Regions from separate parts of the Homo sapiens genome. Here region 1 is linked to region 2. The links come from fine-mapping of genetic effects on gene expression. Tissue or cell type: blood mononuclear cells. Region 2 holds a variant in brackets; the other region holds the start of a gene. All regions are shown on one strand. Distances are from middle to middle.

Region 1 (4,000 bases), 22 kb after region 2:
TAACAACAACAACAAAATCAACCGGGCACGGTGGCGTGCACCTGTAGTCCCAGCTACTTGGGTGGCCGAAGTGGAAGAATCCCTTGAGCTCAGGAAGTCGAGGCTGCAGTGAGCTATGATCGTGCCACTGCCCTCCAGCCTGAGCAACAGAGCGAGACCCGTCTCTTTACAAAACAAAAACAAACAAAAATGGGGAGGAGGGAGAAGAAGGAAGAAAGGAAGGGAAAAGGAAAGGAAAGGAAGAAATAGCTCAAACTCCTACCTACGGTTGCCAACCGTCCTGGTTTGCCTGTGACTGTCCTATTTTTAGCACTGAAAGTCCTGCATCCTGGCACTGGGATGGGTCAGTCTGACCTTGTCCTACAGAAGTCTGGCCCCTGCTGCCCCCACCCTCCAGCCTTCTTAAGCTCGGGGCTCCTCCCTTCTCTACCTGGACATGCTGTGTGGCTGCTTCTAGAATCCATTTAGGGATAATGTCAAAAGGCTGCTTCTTCAGAGAGGCCCTCGGGGGTCATCCTCAGTAAAGTCCCCTCCCACCCCTACCTTCTGTGGCACTTGTTGTCACATTAGTTTATTTCCTTTAGGGCAGCATGGATCCTTTCCTATCTCCCCCAGACCTTCGGGTCTGATTCACTCCCTATGTCCCATGTAAGTGGCAGGGGGCTTGGTACCTTCATCAACACGGCCGAGCGAAGGAACCAGCTCAGACCAGCAAGAGTCTGTTTGCACACATACCTCGCACCTTAAATCGGAGACCTCATTTTGTATGGGTGCTGCTGGGGCTGTGCCTTCCAAGCGACAGGACACACAGCAGAAGCAGCTTCTGAAATTCCGAGTGTGTGTCTGTGTTTGCAAGCATTTGAGGGCGTCACTCACCCCATGTGTGTATCAGCATGTTAATTCGATTGTTGGTCCACGAGGGTAAGCGTTGCGCCTCCCGGAAGAGGGTAAGGCTGTGACAAATGCCCCCTGGGGACAGGCTCCTGGCTTGAACCCAGCAGGCTCACTCGTCGTGGCCTTGGATTAGGGATCCCGCTAAGCCTCGGTTTCCTCGTCGGCACCGCAGTCCAGGTCGGAACATTGGGCAGGACTGAATGAAAATTATGTCCAGGTGCCTGCACACAAGAGGTCTCCAGGCCTCCTGAATCCATCAAAAGTTATCCAAGACGGCTGCTGCTGCTGCTGCTGCCTCTAAACCCTGAAGTACAGAAGGCAAGTGGGTCAAGATCCCAGGCCCAGACAGTGGCGGCCCGGTGGCATCGAGTGGGTGCCGTGTATCTTGCAGGCACAGAACCTCCCGGGGAAGATGGAGGGATTATTGCCCTGCGATCCTGCTTCGCACGCAAGCCAGGAAGTGTGTGTCTGAACTCCCATCTGTGAGCGTGTCGTCGAGGTGTGCACCTCCAGCGACTTCGTGCTCGGCAGCGCGGACGCACCTGCCCGTCCTCCCCGCCAGGGACTCAACTTCCTGGGCCTGGGCGAGAACCGACGGCGGGGAGGGGCCAGGTGCGCAGGGGGCGGGGACAGGGCCCGCGGGGCGGGGTCCACGTGGGTGACGCGCGGGGCCACGCCCCCACCTTGGGACACACCCGGAAGCGGCGGCGGCGCCCCTCGGGGAAGATGGCGCCCTCGGGGCTGAAGGCGGTGGTGGGGGAAAGTGAGTGCCTCTCCGGGGCCGGGCTCTGGCGTCCGGTGTGGGACGGGGGTCGGGGACGCACGGGCTCTGGGATCCTGGGTTTCATGGCGGCTGGGAGTTGGGGGCCGGGCTGGGCGTCCGAGCACCTGACCCTCGAGGGGGCGGGCGGGGACGGGTTCCCAGCTGGACGCCCCTGCTCTCCGGTGCCAGAACAGAACAAAATTGGGGGGCCGGACTCCGGGGACCCAAAGGGGACGGGTAGAGTGTGGCGGAGGCTGGGGCCCGGACTCCTGGGCCTCCTAGGGTGCCTGCCGGGGGAGGAGGGCACAGCTGGATGCCCACACTCTAGGATCTCTTAAGCCGGGCAAAGTTCAGGGGCTGGATTCTTGGGGCCTCCTAGGGCTCTGGTCAGCGACCCTAGGTGCTGTGAGCGCTCAGGGGACGTGTCCAGGCCCCACAGGGGTGGTGTAGGGGATGTCTTCCTCCTTGCCCCATTTCCAGGAGCGCCTTGCAGCTGGAGGACGCAGGCGTCCAGGCCTCACCGGCCCCGGTTCTTGGGGGAAGGGTGGAGGGCGCCTCTTCCTCCACCCCGGGGAGTTCCGGCCTCAGCTGCTCCTTCCGCCCTGGCCGTCTTGATAACAGTGGACATGACACAGTGGACGTGGCTGGGCGGGGCCACCCCGTTACTTCTCTCCACTCTCTCCTCTAGGCAGGGCGGTCTGTAGCTCAAACCCCTTTAATTGGGGGAGATTAGAAAAAAGTGATTCCATTTTACAGATGAGGAAACTGAGACCGGAGGTCAGTGGGATAGCCTCAGCTAGGCATGCCTCAGAGCTGGGAACCAGGGGTCCTACATTTTAGACCAGGTTGGGGGGACTGGCTGAAACCCTCACAGCAGGAATACTTGAGGTAGCAGGTGGGGAAGCCGAGAGCCTGGCGCTAGAGGCAGATAGAGCTGTAGATGATCCCGGTTCTCCTCTTTTCATTCACCTAAAACATGTTTATCGAGTGGCACCTTTTGCCCCAGCACTCTGCCACTTAGACACTCAGGATGCGTAGGTGAGTTACATGTTGCCTAAGAATCTGTTTCCCTGTCTGTAAATTGGGGGTGACCCCAGAAGCCAATTTGCAGAACTGGGGGCTAAAAATAAATGATTCCTGTGCCGTGTCTCACACCTGTAATCCCAGCACTTTGGGAGGCCGAGGCAGGAGGACTGCTTGAGGCCAAAAGTTTGAGACCAGCTTGGGCAACATAGCGAGACCCCATCTATACAGAAATAAAAATAAATTAGCTGTGGGTGGTACATGCACCTGTAGTCCCAGCTACTCGGGAGGCTGAGGCAAGAGGATCGCTGGAGCCCAGGAGTTGGAGGCCGCAGTGAGTTATGATCACACCACTGCACTTTAGCCTAGGTGACAGAGTGAGATCCTCCTCTCTTAAAAAAAAAAAAAAAGTAAATGGGAATTAAGATGGGGGTTCAGCCCCAAGGCTGAGAAGGCTTGGGGCAGTGGTGGGACCAGAGAACCAGCATTCTGACCCCTCCCCTCCCTTCCCTGCAGAAATTCTGAGCGGAGTTATTCGGAGTGTCAAGAAGGATGGGGAGTGGAAGGTAGGGGTGAGGCAGATGGCTGGGTACCCAGAGGCAGCTCATCATCAGGCCTATGGGGAAGACCCTGAATGTGGGACCCCCAAGAACTGCCTGTCCACATGGGTGGAGTTGGGTGAATGGGTTCTGGGTCCTCCCACCCAGCCAGCCCTTGAAACTGCCCCTCCCACTGCCTTGGCCCCTTCTGGGGCCAGCTGTGGCCTCTTCCGCCTGCTCCTCCATCCATCTGTCCATCCATCTGGACAGGTGCTTATCATGGATCACCCAAGCATGCGCATCTTGTCTTCCTGCTGCAAAATGTCAGATATCCTGGCTGAGGGCATCACCAGTGAGTGAACGCGTCCCCAGTGAGATGGGACCTGAGCGTGGGAACCCCTGACTGTGCCCCTCTCCCAGGGTTCAGCCCTTGAGTGTAGGATCCCCTCAAATCGTCCAGAACTCCCAAGTACGCAGCTCCCTGCACGGACAGCCCGGATCATGTGACCAAATCCATTCTTAAACCTTGCAAGCTGACTGCGGGAGCCCATGGATTGCAGGCCTCCCCTGCAGCACTCCCTGGCTGCAGCCCCTTCCTGACCGTGCAGCTCCCTCGTGGAGCCCTGTGTGGGACTCCCAGGGTGGACTCTGGATGTGGGGTCCCAAGAATGCAGAGCCTTCTATGGGTGACCCCAGGTGGTGTCCCAGTCACTTTGCCATTGAGGGATAGGTGCTGAGGGAGCCTGTCCTCTCAGAACCTCAGTCTCCCTGTCTGTAAATT
Region 2 (4,514 bases):
CCGCAGCCCGAAACACACGCGGCCAGCGGAGCTGCGGCTGGCACCCTTGACCAGGGTGCTTACGCCACCCCACGACGTAGACAGCCTCCCCCACCTGCGCAAGTTCTCGCCGAGCCAGGTGCCCGTGCAGACGCGCTCTTCCATCCTCCTGGCGGAGGAGACGCCCCCCGAGGAGCCAGCCGCCCGGCCGGGCCTCATCGAGATCCCGCTGGGCAGCCTGGCAGATCCCGCCGCCGAGGACGAGGGAGACGGGAGCCCCGCTGGTGCTGAGGATTCCTTGGAGGAGGAGGCGTCTTCGGAGGGGGAGCCCCGGGTGGGGCTGGGGTTCTTCTACAAGGTGAGTCCCCGAGCAGGTGGCTGGAGGGTCCTGGGCCTGGGGCGGGGGCGGGTGGGGGCGGGGGGAGGTGGACAAACCCACTATTGGATGAATAGGGCTTTACTGAAGGATGGGTGGGCGGGTGGGGGATAGATGGGGAGCCAGGTATGAATGGACAGAACAGGTGTGAGTGGCTGGGTAAGGCCTCCATGGGTGGGAGAGGGGGGAAAGGGACATTTGCACGGTGGGGGGCAGGTATGTGGGGTGACAGGGGCCTCAGATGGGATTTGACCCTGTCTGTTGGGTAAGGACTTCCACAAGGGGCTGTGGGGGTGCAGTGGGGTGAGAGGTCCTCCCCCTGTGGCTTAATGAGTGAGGCCCTCGGGTATGTTTGGGGGTGAGGGGTTTCCAGTGGGGGCTGACCCAGTCATGTCCCTCCCAAACAAGGTATGGGTGGCCGGACAAGGGGGATAGATAGATGTGGGGAGGGGTGGAGAAACAGGGAGGAGTCATGGATAGACAGATGGATGAATGGCTGGTTGCATGGGTGGGTGGGTGATGGACAGATAGACGGACAGGACCAGGATCTTCAGCGCACCTCCTTGCTCATCCTCTCCTTCACCCCCTCGCCCCCAGCACGCTCCTACCACCCCTTTCCTGGCCCTGCCCTGTGTCCACTGTCTCTCCATTCCCATGGCTTTCCCAGCCGGGGACACCTAGGGTTACCTGACTGGCCTCTGCTGCCTGCCTCCATCCCGGGCCATTTTGCACTGAGTGGTCGGGGATTTTGACTGCTCCCCTTACCCTTGCTTTTAGAATGAAAGTCCTCCCCAGGGTGGCCGGGCGCAGTGGCTCATGCCTGTAATCCCAGCACTTTGGGAGGCCAAGGCAGGCGGATCATGAGGTCAGGAGATCGAGACCATCCTGGCTAACATGGTGAAACTCCGTCTCTACTAAAAATACAAAAAATTAGCTGGCGTGGTGGCGGGCGCATGTAGTCCCAGCTACTCAGGAGGCTGAGGCAGGAGAATGGCGTGAACCCAGGAGGTGGAGCTTGCAGTGGGCCTAGATCGTGCCACTGCACTCCAGCCTGGGCAACAGAGCGAGACTCCATCTCAAAAAAAAAAAAAAAAAAAAAAAAGTGAGCACAGCCCAAAGCCCTGGGGAGGACTTCCTTTTCATTTTTTTTTTTTGTTTTGTTTTCTTTTGTTTTTTGTTTTTTGAGACAGAGTCTCGCTCTGTGGCCCAGGCTGGAGTGCAGTGGCATGATCTCGGTTCACTGCAACCTCCACCTCCTGGGTTTAAGTGATTCTCTTGTCTCACCCTCCTGAGTAGCTGGGACTACAAGAGCATGCCACCACGCCCAGCTGATTTTTGCATTTTTAGTAGAGACAGGGTTTCTCCAGGCTGGTCTCGAACCCCTGACCTCAAGTGATCCACCTGCCTTGGCCTCCCAAACTGCTGGGATTACAGGTGTGAGCCACCGCGTCTGGCCTGTACTCACTTCTGACTTAGTCCTGCGCCACTGTCCTCAGCTCTGTGTCCCAGCCACACTGGCCCCCTTGTACTTCCGTGCCCCCCAGTAGGTTTGCTCCAGCCTCAGGGCCTCGGCACTAGCTGTCCCCTCTGCCTGGAACGCTCTGCTCTGTACGCCCACCTAGTTAAATCCTGATCATTCTACAGGGTACTTCCTCTGGGAAGC[C/T]TTCCTGGGTGTCTCCAGGCCAGGCCGGGGTCCTCCCGCAGTGTAGAGTGTCTGTGCCCAACACGAGCTTTTGCTGGCACTCACTGCTGTCTGCTGCTTTTGTCTTCCCCGTTGGGTTAAGCAGTGTGTGTGTGAGCGGCACCCAGTGTATCCCATCCCTGTTGTGTCCCAGTACTTAGTGTGGGGCTGTGCATACAGTAGGCACCAACTAAGTGCATTTAGAACAATGATGAAAACAAAAGCACAGGTGGGTGGCGGGCAGGCTGGGTGGAGGGAAGATGGGCCTCCAGCCATGTTGGGGGAGGGGGTGGCTGGCTGGACTCGGCGTCTGTCCCCAGGATGAAGACAAGCCTGAGGACGAGATGGCCCAAAAGCGGGCCAGCCTGCTGGAGCGGCAGCAGCGGCGAGCAGAGGAGGCGCGGCGGCGCAAGCAGTGGCAGGAGGTGGAGAAGGAACAGCGGAGGGAGGAGGCCGCGAGGTGAGGCCGGGCCTGCCCGGGACGCCCGCTCCTTGGCCTGTCTGCCACCGCGGACCCCGTGAGCGGTTCTGATGCCGATTCCCTGTGATCTGCAGGCTGGCCCAAGAGGAGGCCCCGGGCCCAGCCCCGCTTGTGTCCGCAGTCCCGATGGCGACTCCAGCCCCTGCTGCCCGGGCTCCAGCCGAGGAGGAGGTGGGCCCCCGGAAGGGGGACTTCACGCGGCAGGAGTACGAGCGCCGGGCCCAGCTGAAGCTGATGGACGACCTCGATAAGGTGCTGCGGCCCCGGGCTGCGGGGTCCGGGGGTCCAGGTCGGGGCGGGCGGAGGGCCACCCGGCCTCGCTCGGGTTGCTGTGACGACTCAGCCCTGGCACGAAGCCCAGCCCGCGGCCTGCTGGGTGAGGACCCTTGGGGGACGGGGCCTGCCCAGTGCCCTTTCCGGGGCTCACTGGGTGAGGCCCCCATGGGTAAGGGGGGAGGGGGAGGGAGATGTAAGCAGGGGTGCCGGGAGGGGGCGGGTATGTGGGGTGACAGGGGGCCTCAGGTGGGGTTGGACACTGTCTCTTGGGTAAAGACTTCCATAGGGGGCCGGGCGCGGTGGCTCACGCCTGTAATCCCAGCACTTTGGGAGGCTGAGGCGGGCGGATCACCTGAGGTCAGGAGTTTGAGACCAGCCTGGCCAACATGGTGAAAGCCCATCTCTATTAAAAATACAAAAATTAGCCGGGCATATGGCATGCCTGTAGTCCCAGCTACTTGGGAGACTGAGGCAGGAGAATCGCTTGAGCCTGGGAGGTGGAGGTTGCGGTGAGCCAAGATTGCACCACTGTACTCCAGCCTGGGCAACAGAGCGAGACTCCGTCTCAGAAATAAGACAAAAAAAAAAAAAAAAGACTTCCATAGGGATGTGGGGTGCAGTGGGATGAGGGGTCTTTCTTCTGTGGCTTCATGGATAGGAACCTTTGGGAGTATGTTTGGGGTGAGGCGTTGCCAGTAGGGGCTGACCCAGTGCTGCTCCCCACTTGCCTGCTGGGCAAAGCATCCTCCCTCATAGAGGGGTCCCCCCATAGGGGTGCTGCAGAGGGCCGAGGGGTCTTGGGCAGGACTGACTCCTCCTGTGTTCCCCCCACAGCCTGCTGGACCGGGTGTTGTGGAGGGCAGGGGCTTCTGGTGGGCACTGACCTGCAATCTCTGTCCCCAGGCTCTCGGCTGAGCAAAATCTATTCCCAGTCCACCCTGTCACTGTCCACTGTGGCCAACGAGGCCCACAATAACCTCGGGGTGAAGAGGCCCACGTCTCGGTGAGTTTAGCCCGCACAGGCGGGGTTCGTATGCCGGGTGGCTTCCCAGAGCCTGGGAGGTGTGTGGGCATCTGGGTGAACCTAGAGGGCGGTATGGCTCGAGTTTATGGATACGCCATGAAGAGATGGAGGGACGCGTGTGGGCACGTGTGCATGGGGCATAGTCTGTACCTGGCAGACAGGACTCAAGCATGTGCCTCAGTGCACTTGAGTGCCAGGTGTTCCTGTGGGAGGAGGACAGCACGGGGCACTGCATGGACTTGGGAGGGTGTGCAGTGTATACCGCCTCCTCTGCAGTGTGTGTGGCCCGCCTTTTTTTTTTTTTTTTTTTTTTTTGTTTTTTTGAGAGGGAGTCTTGCTGTGTCGCCCAGGCTGGAGTGCAGTGGCGCAATCTTGGCTCACGGCAACCTCCGCCCCCTGGGTGCAAGTGATTCTCGTGCCTCAGCCTCCTGAGTAGCTGGGGTTACCCGTGCCTGTAGAGACGGTGTTTCACCATGTTGGCCAGGCTGGCCTCGAACTCCCGACCTCAAGTGATCTGCCCGCTTTGGCCTCCCGAAGTGCTGGGATTACAGGCATGAGCCACGATGCCCAGCCGTGGCCCTTATTTTCCTTGGCCCCTCTGCACATAGGGAAGCTTCCCATCTCTGACCCCACCTCCATCCCATCCTGACCCCACCTCCATCCCATCCTTCTCCCACTGCAGGGCTCCCTCCCCGTC

What was found. PIP is the estimated chance that this variant, and not a neighbour inherited with it, causes the effect.
Region 1: STXBP2 starts here. The variant in region 2 is the best candidate, but not a certain one, in a credible set for the expression of STXBP2 in blood mononuclear cells (TOPMed, PIP 0.55).

What each region holds. Positions count from the first base shown.
Region 1 is chr19:7,635,530-7,639,529 of GRCh38, forward strand. It overlaps STXBP2 (syntaxin binding protein 2), which reads left to right and starts at 1,581. Exons shown (of 19, transcript NM_006949.4): 1 at 1,581-1,657; 2 at 3,197-3,246; 3 at 3,490-3,571. The coding sequence starts at 1,621. It also overlaps a transcript of PCP2 not described here. RefSeq lists enhancers at 1,127-1,654, 1,655-2,183, 2,184-2,710 and a silencer at 1,399-1,688.
Region 2 is chr19:7,612,827-7,617,340 of GRCh38, forward strand. CAMSAP3 (calmodulin regulated spectrin associated protein family member 3) reads left to right here. Exons shown (of 17, transcript NM_020902.2): 11 at 1-337; 12 at 2,357-2,496; 13 at 2,592-2,893; 14 at 3,697-3,796; 15 at 4,500-4,514. Among named protein-coding and RNA genes, the nearest start is that of MIR6792, 2.4 kb to the right of the region's middle. The variant C/T (reference allele first, on the strand shown) is at 2,019.